Homo sapiens: one gene and its partner. The protein of the gene in region 1 purifies or fractionates together with the protein of each later gene. This does not show direct contact. Each region holds a gene or a part of one and is shown on either strand. Other genes may lie near its edges.

Evidence for each region. The genes of interacting proteins can lie anywhere in the genome.
Region 2: the proteins of PLEKHG2 (region 1) and FHL1 purify together in Homo sapiens (affinity purification with western blotting; 2 studies listed by BioGRID). This does not show direct contact.

The regions. Positions count from the first base shown.
Region 1 is NC_000019.10:39,415,668-39,422,699, forward strand, and holds part of PLEKHG2 (pleckstrin homology domain-containing family G member 2), read left to right. Parts: intron 1-680; coding exon 681-747; intron 748-883; coding exon 884-930; intron 931-1,182; coding exon 1,183-1,333; intron 1,334-1,887; coding exon 1,888-2,025; intron 2,026-2,237; coding exon 2,238-2,438; intron 2,439-3,066; coding exon 3,067-3,159; intron 3,160-3,249; coding exon 3,250-3,336; intron 3,337-4,958; coding exon 4,959-4,992; intron 4,993-5,083; coding exon 5,084-5,185; intron 5,186-5,281; coding exon 5,282-5,329; intron 5,330-5,407; coding exon 5,408-5,446; intron 5,447-5,615; coding exon 5,616-5,632; intron 5,633-6,447; coding exon 6,448-6,621; intron 6,622-7,032. UniProt on the Homo sapiens protein: May be a transforming oncogene with exchange activity for CDC42. May be a guanine-nucleotide exchange factor (GEF) for RAC1 and CDC42. Activated by the binding to subunits beta and gamma of the heterotrimeric guanine nucleotide-binding protein (G protein).
Region 2 is NC_000023.11:136,207,015-136,211,854, reverse strand, and holds the end of FHL1 (four and a half LIM domains protein 1), read right to left. Parts: intron 4,840-4,840; coding exon 4,665-4,839; intron 4,064-4,664; coding exon 3,894-4,063; intron 3,401-3,893; coding exon 3,214-3,400; intron 2,613-3,213; coding exon of another isoform or gene 2,413-2,612; intron 1,985-2,412; coding exon 1,830-1,984; 3' UTR 501-1,829; downstream 1-500.

The DNA of each region.
Region 1 (7,032 bases):
TGAGGGAGGGGCATAGCGGATGGGAGGACCCCGAGTGAGGGAGGGGCATAGCGGATGGGAGTCAGAGGACCTGGATGAAGCCCAAACACTGGGACAGGGTCCCGGCATCAGGACGAGTCCTTGGGGCTGTGTCAGGTCTGGGCTCACGATGAATCCAAGAATCATATGGGGCCTGAAGGCCGAGACAGCGTGAGCATGCGAGTGACCCCCTAAGCCTGATTTGCCTGGGACTTTTCCAGTTTTAGCACTGAAAGCCCTCGTCCTAGGAAACTGCTCAGTCCCGGACAAACCAGGATGGTTGGTCACTGTGGTAAGGAGGACTCTGGGGTCCAAGGATCATGACATTTCCAAGTACCTTGACGAGGTCTCGGGATTACAGCAGGAACTTAAGATCATCCTAGCTCTTTGGGTCATGATATAACACCCCTAGGCTCATGCCAGCACTGACACAAGTTCAAGCTGAGGAATGAGAAGCTGTCCAGGGACAAAGTCTAAGCAGGTTACCATGCCCCGTGTAGCCCTCAGAGGACCCTTCCTCCGGACATGACATCCCCTTAGGAGATGCTGGCAGTCAGCAAGCCCCCAGCCCCAGCAGACCATTGGGGCCTCAGCCTCCTGGAGGCCTCCCATGGAGGGGTCGTGAAGGCAGGCGGTTCCTCACCCTCCCCTCTCCCCTGTAGCGAGCTCCTGGAGGACTTGGAGAACAGCAGCAGCGCCGGGGGTATTGCCGAGTGCTTCGTGCAGAGGGTGAGTGGAGGGGTGGGGGGCTCTCGGTCCTGGATGGGGCCTTTGTAGAGGGGGGAGAGCAGGCTTGGGCTAGGCTGGAAGGGGGGTCGTGGGAAGCCAGGACCTGGGGTCTCCCTGACTCCCATGTCACCCGCAGAGCGAGGATTTTGACATCTACACATTGTACTGCATGAACTACCCGAGGTGAGGGGCAGGAGCCCCTGCTGGGCCTCAGGCTGTGCCCACAAGCTGATGTGCCAGTCACCCGTCACCCTCCCTCTACCCCCGACCCATCCAGCACCGACCCCTGCCAGGCTGTGACAGTAACTGACCTCTCCCTCACTGCCCCGCCCCCTGTCAGACCCTGACCCTTCCCAAACCCTGGCCCCTCCCTAACCCCTCTTGACCCCGCCCACTGGAACTGACAATCCCCACTGACCTGTGCTGTGCCCCCAGCTCCCTGGCCCTGCTCCGGGAGCTGTCGTTGTCTCCGCCAGCAGCCCTGTGGCTGCAGGAGCGCCAGGCCCAGCTTCGCCACTCGCTGCCCCTGCAGAGCTTCCTGCTGAAACCTGTCCAGCGCATTCTCAAGTACCATCTGCTGCTGCAGGTCAGCTGGGGCCCCTGGAGCCAGGCTGGGGAGGGGGAGGTCCTGTCCCTTGACCACCTGTTGGTTCATCTGGAGGATGGACCCCCCACGAGTTGGGCAAGGCCTCCCAAAGTGCTGGGATTACAGGCGTGAGCCACCGCGCACAGCCCTAGCTTTTTTTTTTCCCTTTGAGGTGGAGTTTCACTCTTGTCGATGAGGCTGGAGTACAGTGGTGCGATCTTGGCTCACTGCAACCTCCACCTCCTGGGTTCAAGTGATTCTCCTTGCTCAGCCTCCTGAGTAGCTAGGATTACAGGCGCACACCACCATGCCCAGCTAATTTTTGTATTTTTAATAGGGACGGGGTTTCACTACGTTGGCCGGGCTAGTCTCGAACTCCTGGCCTCAGGTGATTTGCCCACCTCAGCCTCCCAAAGTGCTGGGATTACAGACATGAGCCACTGCGCCTGGCCTCTGCCCCTATCTTTATATTTCTCCATCTCCTGTTATTCTCATTCTCTTTCTCCTTCTCTGTTTCTCTCCCCATCCCTGCGTGCCTGGTGGCTGCCTGACAGGAACTAGGGAAGCACTGGGCGGAGGGCCCAGGCACTGGGGGTCGCGAGATGGTGGAGGAAGCTATTGTGTCCATGACAGCGGTTGCCTGGTACATCAACGACATGAAGCGCAAGCAGGAGCATGCAGCGCGCCTCCAGGTGGCCCCAGGGTGGGCTGGGGCTTGCTGGATGAGGGAGTGAGCGAGGGGGCCTTGGGGCGGGTGGGGGGAAATCAGTGCCTCAGAGGTAGCCTTGGAGGGTTGGCTGGGACAGCATGGCCCTGTTGCTAACCCCCTGTTTTGGTGTGTATGTGTGTGCCACCTACCCATGCTTGTCTCTGCGCCCCGGCGCACCTGGCGGGGTCCCGGCAGGAAGTGCAGCGGCGGCTGGGTGGCTGGACCGGACCAGAGCTCAGTGCTTTTGGGGAACTGGTGTTGGAGGGCGCGTTCCGAGGAGGCGGAGGGGGTGGCCCCCGGCTACGAGGGGGTGAGCGGCTGCTCTTCCTGTTCTCTCGGATGCTGCTGGTGGCCAAGCGCAGGGGGCTGGAGTACACCTACAAAGGCCACATCTTCGTGAGTTTGGGGATGGGGTGGGGCTAGAATACTACCTACAAAGTATATCCCATATACCTGTATCTGTGTGCCCGGCAGTGTGGGCCAGGGGACCCTGCCACATTTTCTTGAGTTAGAGAATGGAAGCCAAGGGAAGCTTTCTTTCTAGTGTATAGAATGAGAGCTGCCCCACTTAAGAAAAAAAAGGAGAAGGCTGGGCGTGGTGGCTCATTCCTGTAATCCGAGCACTTTGGGAGGTCAAGGCGGGCGGATCACTTGAGGTCAGGAGTTCGAGACCAGCCTAGCCAACGTGGTGAAACCCCGTCTCTACTAAAAATACAAAAATTAGCTGGACGTGGTGGCAAGTGCCTGTAATCCCAGCTACTGGGGAGGCTGAGGCAGGAGAATTACTTGAACCCAGGAGGCGGAGGTTGCAATAAGCCAAGATCATGCCACTGCACTCCAGCCTGGGTGACAGAGCAAGACTCTGTCTCAAAAAAAAAAAAGGGAGAGGAAACCCACCATACAGCCTTATGGGATGCATCTTCCTAGGGAGGAGGACCCAGATACACCTCCAAGGGTGTCTCCGTACAAGGGGCATCACTGAGCCCAAGGACTCTGAGCTTGCTACCCCTCTCTTTCCTTCCAGTGCTGCAACCTGAGCGTGAGCGAGAGTCCCCGAGACCCTCTAGGGTTCAAGGTGTCTGATCTGACCATTCCCAAGCACAGACACCTGCTCCAGGTGAGCATGTAGTGGGATCAGGCTGGCAGGGATCCCCCAGCCTCGAGACCTCACACCTGGCCCCCTGACTCTACTCCAACCCACTCCTAGGCCAAGAACCAAGAAGAGAAGAGGCTGTGGATTCACTGTCTCCAGCGCCTCTTCTTTGAGAACCACCCTGCCTCCATCCCTGCCAAGGTACAGCTCCTGCCGCAGCCGGGGGCCCTCTGAGTGCTGGAGACACCCTCCCCCAATAGTACTAAGAGACGCCCCTGCCCAATGCCAGAGCAGTCTGTTATAATGTGATTGCTAAAAGTGCAGAATTCCGCTACTTGGGTTTGAATCTTAGCTCTACCATGTCCCTGCTTTGTGACCTTGGGCAAGTAACTTAACCTCTCTGAGCCTTAACTTCCTCACCTAGAGGAATGAAAGCGCCTTCATCCTAGGGTTGTGGTGATGAGTAATGGTCACCAGCCACGTCATGGGCTTGACCAATAGAAGCACCCATCAGCTGGCTGTGGTGGCTCATGCCTATAATCCCAGCACTTCGAGGGGGTGATGTGGGAGGATCATTTAAGCCCGGGAGTTCGATACCAGCTTGGGCAACATAGTGAGACCCTGTCTCTAAAAAACATTTTTTAATTAGCTGGGGCTGGCCAGGCACGGTGGCTCACACCTGTAATCCCAACACTTTGGGAGACCAAGGCGGGCGGATCACCTGAGGTCAGGAGTTCAAGAGCAGCCTGACCGACATGGAGAAACCCCATCTCTACTAAAAAATACAAAATTAGGCCGGGCGCGGTGGCTCATGCCTGTAATCCCAGCACTTTGGGAGGCCGAGGCGGGCGGATCACGAGGTCCGGAGATCGAGACCATCCTGGCTAACATGGTGAAACCCCATCTCTACCAAAAATACAAAAAATTAGCCAGGCGTGGTGGCAGGTGCCCGTAGTCCCAGCTACTCGGGAGGCTGAGGCAGGAGAATGGCGTGAACCCAGGAGGCAAGAGCTTGCAGTGAGCCTAGGTTGCGTCACTGCGCTCTCCAGACTGGGCAACAGAGTGAGCCTCTGTCTCAAAAAAAAAAAAGAAAAAGAAAAATTAGCTGGGCATGGTGGCGCATGCCTGTAATCCCAGCTACTAGGGAGGCTGAGGCAGGAGAATCACTTGTACCTGGGAGGCGGAACTTGCGGTGAGCCGAGATCATGCCATTGCACTCCAGCCTGGGCAAGAAGAGCGAAACTCCGTCTCAAAAAAATAAAAATAAAATAGCTGGGCTGGACGTGGTGGTTCACGCCTGTAATCCCAGCACTTCGGGAGGCCAAGGCGGGTGGATCACCTGAGGTTAGGAGTTCAAGACCAGCCTGGTCAACATGGTGAAACCCCGTCTCTACTAAAAACACAAAAATTACCGGGTGTGGTAGCGGGCACCTGTAATCCCAGCAACTCAAGAGGCTGAGGCAGGAGAATCGCTTGAACCCAGGAGGCAGAGGGTGCAGTGAGCCGAAATCGCGCCTTTGCACTCCAACCTCGGCAACAAGAGCAAAATCTCCGTCTCAAAAAAAAAAAAAAATTAGCTGGATGTGATGGTGCACATATGAAATCCCAGCTACTCAGGAGGGTGAGGTGGGAAGATCGCTTGATCCCAGAAGTAGAGGCTGGAGTGAGCTATGATTGCACCACTGTACTCCAACCTGGCGTATAGAGCAAGATCTAAAAACAAAAACAGCACCCATTAATGGGCATGACTACGGTGCTTAAAGTATCCTCTCTGTGGTACTCCAAGATCGACCCACCTCAGCCCTCATCCTCCTGTCTTTCAGGCAAAGCAAGTTCTCCTTGAAAACAGCCTGCATTGTGAGTTGGGGCCTTGGGCTGGGAGGGTGTGGAAGTAGACGAATTACTTCCAAGAAAAAGTTGGCTTTTAGCCCCAAAACTCTCCCCACAGGTGCCCCCAAAAGTAAGCCTGTCCTAGAGCCCCTGACACCCCCACTTGGGTCTCCTCGACCTCGAGATGCTAGAAGTTTTACCCCTGGGCGAAGGAACACAGGTAAAGGCGGTGGATCCCTGAGTCCCAGCCCTCAGCCCCACTTCCCTAGGACCCGGGAGCTGGGCTCACACAGGGCTCTGGCCCTCCCTCCCACAGCTCCATCTCCTGGGCCCTCTGTGATTCGCCGAGGCCGCAGGCAGTCTGGTGAGCACTCACCCCTAAGGGTGATCCAGGCATCGGGGTGGGAGCTGGGCTCCTGACATCACTGTGTCCTCCCCGCAGAGCCGGTGAAGGACCCTTATGTCATGTTCCCACAGAACGGTCAGTGACTGCCCCGGTTCAGCCTGGTCCATCCCTGTCTGTCGCCCGGTGGGATGTCTGGGGCGGGTTGGGGAGGGGTGGTTGCTTCAGCTCATCAGTTATGGGGGAATCACTCTTTTTCCCTTACATCTCACTAATGCTTCTCTCTCTCTCATCTCTCCATCCTTAGCTAAGCCTGGATTCAAGGTAAGAGATATCTCGAGATAGGGTCTGGGCACCTTGACTTCTGGGTCTGATGGAGAAGGGAGCTTGAGTTCCAAAATCCTGGGTCTGAATGAGAAGGGGATTGGGGCCAGACAGAGTAACTCATGCCTGTAATCTCAGTATTTTGGGAGGTCAAGGCAGGAGGATTGCTCGAGCCCAGGAGTTTGAGACCAGTCTGGGCAACATGGCAAAACCCCATCTCTACAAAAAGTACAAAAAAATTAGCCAGGCACACTAGTGCATGCCCATAGTCCCAGCTACTCAGGAGACTGAGGTGGGAGGATTGCTTGAGCCTGGGAGGCAGAGGTTGCAAAATGAGCTGGGACACACCACTGCACTCCAGCATGGGTCACAGTGAGACCCTGTCTCAAATAAATAAATAAAAATTTTAAGAGAAAAATAAAAAAATTTAAAAATTGAGCCAGGTACGGTGGCTCACCTGTAATCCCAGCACTTTGGGAGGCCGAGGTAGGTGGATCATCTGAGATCAGGAATTTGAGACCAGGCTGGCCAACAAGGAGAAACCCCGACTCTACTAAAAATACAAAAATTAGCTGGACATTGTGGCAGGCGCCTGTAATCCCAGCTACTCAGGAGGCTGAGGCAGCAGAATCGCTTGAACCCGGGAGGCGGAGATTGCAGTGAGCAGAGATGGCGCCATTGCACTGCAGGCTGGGCGACAGAGCGAGACTCCATCTCAAAACAAACAAACGCAAAAGAAGGGGATTGGGACTTGGGGTCCTCTATGTGAGGGAGGAGTCTTGGCTCTTGCCTTCCATTGCTTTCCCTCCTCACAGCACGCTGGCAGCGAAGGGGAACTCTACCCTCCAGAATCTCAGCCACCAGTTTCAGGCTCTGCACCCCCTGAGGACCTGGAGGATGCTGGACCCCCAACACTGGACCCCTCTGGGACCTCAATCACTGAAGAAATCCTGGAACTGCTGAATCAGCGAGGCCTTCGAGATCCAGGGGTGAGCTGGCTGTCCCATCATGGTGTCCTTGGGCCTCTGGGTGTGGGCACACAGACCAGGGACCAGATAGGCCAGCCCATGCTGATACCTTTATTTTTTTTTTATTTGAGATGGAGTCTTGCTCTGTTGCCGAGGCTGGAGTGCAGTGGCGCCATCTCGGCTCACTGCAAGCTCTGCCTCCCAGGTTCAAGCGATTCTCCTGCCTCAGCCTCCTGAGTAGCTGGGACTACAGGCACCCGCCAACACACCCGGCTAATTTTTTTTTTTTTTTTGTATTTTTAGTAGAGACAGGGTTTCACTATGTTGGCCAGGCTGGTCTCGAACTCGTAACCTCAAGTGACCCGCCCACTTCAGCCTCCCAAAGTGCTGGGATTACAGGCGTGAGCCACCACACCCAGCTACCATGCTGAT
Region 2 (4,840 bases), on another chromosome or scaffold:
GGGCCCAAATGGGCAGCTTCCTTAGTGAGCCACATCCACAAGAAGGAGCGAGGGTGTCATTCAGCTGGCAGGTGGAGGCAGCCGCAGTTGAGATGGTCACGTTCAACCTGGACCCCAGGCTCCAGAGGGCACAAGGGGAAAGGCACACCGAGGAAGCACCCAACAAACAGGGACCAAGATGGCTTCTCAGTGCCATGCTTCATCAGGGATTCCCTCCCTAATCCCCTGGCCAAATCAAACCAATTCATCGTTTTCTTTCTTTTTCAGGGATGTGAAAATCTGGGAAATACTATTTTAGGTCAGAGTGGTTTCTGTTTGTTTTTAATTATTTATTTATCAATCAAGTGTGGTTTTTACAGGTTTGTTTATAATTCCTATGTTCTGTGCGCCTGCACTAAAGTGAGTATATCCTGGAAGGAAAATAAGTCATTTAGGTTTCTGGATTAGGAGTATCACCTTATAGCGATTCCACCAGGCAGAATGAAAAGACAGGAGGCAGGTTATTCATATGCTGCTTTATTTCTGTAAGGATACACTGAAACGTTAGATGATAATAGCTAATGACAGAATGTAGAAATGAGGCATCAGCTTCTCTAACCACTCCTACAAGAATGTTAGTATGTATTGTCATTACATGTTTACTTTTGATATTGTCTCATTATACTATGTCATATAATAATGTAGAATACAGTAAGTAGGTGATCCTGCATTTCAGGTAAGCGGTAGGTGGAAATCCAGATTTCCTCTTGAGGAAAAGTCCTAGGAATCACAACAGAAGGGACTTTGCAGTCCTCATTAACACATGGACAAAGAGCAGACAACTACTACGTTACAAGGGATTCAACTAGTCACTGTTGTGAAATGTCATATCCATGTTGATGACAGCCCTGGCGCCTGCTCAACTCCCCCTCTAGAGTTTTGCGGTTACTTCCGTAGGATGAATTTCAGCACTGCAGGAACATCTGAGGGGGCTAAAATATTTTCATGCAAGTTTCCAAACCCATAAACTATTTTGCTATCAATTAAAACAAAAATATTAATTAAAAACAATAAAAAGGACAGCAGGGTTAGTTTTGTTAAGCTTCCAGAAGTATTCGTTGTGACGATGTTCCTCTGAAACAGGCTCGTTTTCTCAGGTCTTTCTACACTTCCCAAATCACCTGCATGTTCCATGCTTTAAAGTAGGAACGCTCAGAAAACATGCCACACGGGGAAACCAAACGTTAGTACGGGGAAAGGTCAGTTTAGAATTACAGCTAAGTTCAAATGTTAATTTTCTGGAAGTTCGTGTTAGTTATTTGAAAGCACAAAAGAACAGAAGGAAGGGCAGAGTTCTGATGAGGAAGTTAAACCATGCATGTCAGTAGGGTTCTTTTCCTGCTCACAGAAGAGGGTGAGCAGTGAGTTGGAGCAGCCGCTGCAACTCTTGCATGTCGTGTGTCTACACGGTGGGTCCCAGCTGAGGCATGAGAGGCATCTCAGTGGGGGTTTTATCTCCTATGCTTCTTGCTTACATCACTAAGTGGCTAAATGATTAGCACTTTTCTGCTCTATGAGAAACATGCAGAAGAGTCAATCTACCTAAGTTTTCATTTTTAAATTGCAGCCGGACAGAAATTCACTTTGCTGCAGGGTTGCTTTTTGCTAAATGCTAATATGATCACTGTGTGCCCTTATTTGAGTAATACTGTAAAATGGGAGAAAAGACGGAAGGAGAACTTTAAAGAAGGGAAGGACCACTCTTCCCCTATTGATGGTATAGGGCAGAAAGTAAGGACACAAAGAACGAGATTCAAATGCCATTTTACAGGACAGGAGCCCCTGTCAGTTTACAGCTTTTTGGCACAGTCGGGACAATACACTTGCTCCTGGTGGAAAACAAAGCGCTTGTTGGCCAGATTCACGGAGCATTTTTTGCAGTGGAAGCAGTAGTCGTGCCAGGATTGTCCTTCATAGGCCACCACACTGGAGCCTTTACCAAACCCTGGGGGGAAAAAAAAAGAAAAGAAAAGAAAACAAGAGAAACAGCTGAATGAATACAGGTGAGGAAACCACGATTCAGAGAGATAAAATGACGACCTGCCCCACTCACAGACCGACAAGCACGCAAGAGCCAGGTCTGCCTGGCTCCCAGACCCCCTCCTCCACTCCATCGTGCACAGTCCCCCACGCCGCCATTGTCCCCCATGCCGCCGCAACCCTGCTGTGGCTCTCAAGGACCTGAGAAGATGCTGAAGCCCGGCCAAGGGCTTCCCTGATGTAAAGACCCCACGTTCCCATGCCACCACGCTATTGCCCTGTGACGCGCACCGACCTCCCAGCATAACCAGTTTCTTTGATTTAGGTCAGGGCCATGACATCAAAGTGGCCACCAGGAGGCAAACTTGGGCTGTTCGTGGGGTGTGCACTTACCGGGCCTCGAGGAGCTGCTAAGCTTCGATTTTTTCTATAAAGAACCACCACCCACGAGGGACAAGTCCTCTCTCCACCCGGATGCCTGCCCCGGAGGTTGGCGCTGGGAAACAGGGTGAGAGGCAAGCGTTTCCCGTGGCACACTGGGGGCTTCCTAGCTTTAGAGACTGGGTGGCTCACTCTTGACACAGTCCTTTTCCCTGAGGATGGCAAAAGTCTTCTCAAATGTACATTTCAAGGCTCCCCGGGAAGATGGGAAAATTGGAGGCAAGGGAAAGGGCCCAGGGCACGTGGATCGCGGCCGCGAGATGAGGAATGAAGTGATTAGCTTTGCTGATCGCAAAAACAAATAAACAGCAAACCAAAAAAAAAAGAAACCCTGCCAACAGGCATCTCTGAACTAGCCTTCAGCTATGGGGTATTACAATCCCGGGTTATCACTCTTCGGCCTCCCTTACCCCTTCCCCACCCTCCCCCACCCCCTTCTTTCTACCCTCCTCCCACCCCTCCCCCCAGAATCCCCCTGCAAAGTGGCAGTGCCTGCCGGTGTTGGCTGGCAGGTCTCAGGCTTGTGAACTCTCAGCATTGTTAGTCAACAGTCAGGAAGTGTTCTGTATTGCAAAGGCTAACCTGGCCTGGGGACGAATCCAAACTCTTGGGGGGCCTTTGGGACCACAATAGCAGGGGGAGAAGGGCATTCTCTGGGGGCCTTTGTGGATGAAACCGACGACAGGAAAATGAGAGATGGTTACCATGCGCAAAACCTAGCCTGGCAGACTTAGCAAGGACTCTTTAGCCTACCAGTGATGGGGTTCTTGCATCCAGCACACTTCTTGGCCACAAAGTTCTTGTAGCAATCCACGCAGTAATACTGGTCCTCCACAGCGGTGAAACGCTGCCCAGCCAGCTTCTTAGAGCAGGTAACACACACAAAGCAATCGGCATGCCAGGGCTGATCCTGGTAAGTGATTCCTCCAGATGTGATGGCCTAGACCAGGGAGTGTAGCACCGGATTCAGATTCAACAACCATTTTGTTGAATGCCTACTGCGTGCCAGGCACTGTGCTGGGCGCTTTGGTATACAATATCTCATTTAATCTCCACAACAGCCATGGGAGGCAGGGGCTATTATTATCCCCACTTTACAGATGAAGACACCAAGGCTCGGAGAAGGTGAGCCCCTATGTGAGGTTACACAGCCCCTAAGTGGTGGAGGCAGGCTTCTAGAGCCAGGGCTGCCCAGCTCAGCATGCCATACGGGCCACCCGCACCACCAGGCTGAGGATGCGTACTGACAGCCTGACTTGGCTGTGGCACTGCTTCCTAATCCACGATCTCCTCATCTGTAAAACGGGAATAATAATTCCTACGTCACAGGGCTGTCGTGAGGATGGAATGGGATAGTGTGTGTGGAAGTGCTCTGCAAACTGTCAAACACTTCTAGAAACAACGGTCAATGCAGAACTCCCTTGAAAGCATACCTTGTTGCACTTCACGCAATGCTTGGCAAACTTGGTCTCATGGCAAGTCACGCAGTAGAAGTCCTCCCCTTTAGGGAAGAAGCTTCCAGTCCCGATGACTTGCTTGCAGTTACTACAGGTGAAGCAGTCTTTGTGCCAGACGGTCCCCTTGTACTCCACGTTTTGATCTCCTGCAGAGGGAAGCAATTGGATAGCCCCACTGACAGGCTCTGCAGGGGGCTGCATCCACTCAGCTCCCCTCCCCAGGCCCTCCAGAGGTGAGGGGATGCAGGCCCTGCAGTTACTGGCCTCACACCTCCAACTAACCTACCTGTGTTCTACTTGTGCTTGTGCCAACCCAGGATTTCTGTCATGGGTGGGGACCCCAGCATTATTATTTTAGGATCCAGTGCCTGAATCCCCCACTCCCCCACCTCTATACCCTGCGTGCACTTAGACATTAAATCAGGGACTGCCTGGCCCAGAATGACACCCTGAGGAAGAAGCATGCTTTCATCACTTACTACGCCCAAATGAGAAAGCGCTACATACTGTTCACTTCATTCTGTTGCCACAGGCTGTTCTCGCCAGTGTTCTTTAGTCTCCGAGTGTGTGCGTGTGTGCGAGCATATATGTGTACGCATATATACGTGTATGTATATGTGTACATATATATGCTAAGATCTCAAAGCAGCTCAGAGCAACGTTAGCCCCACCATGATAAGCAAGCCCACATCACGTCTGCCCTCAGGGCCTCCTCCCTGGGAACCCGGGGTGGGAAGGAGGCAGTACCTGCCACAATGGCCTTGAAGCACCCCTTGCACTTGGGGGAGTCCTCCCGAGTGGTGCACTTGTTGCACAGGATCTTGTTGTCCTTGGCCACAAAGGTCTCATTGGCCAAGGGGTGAAGGCACTTGGCACAGCGGAAGCAGGTGTCATGCCAGAAGCGGTTCTTATAGTGCACCTCC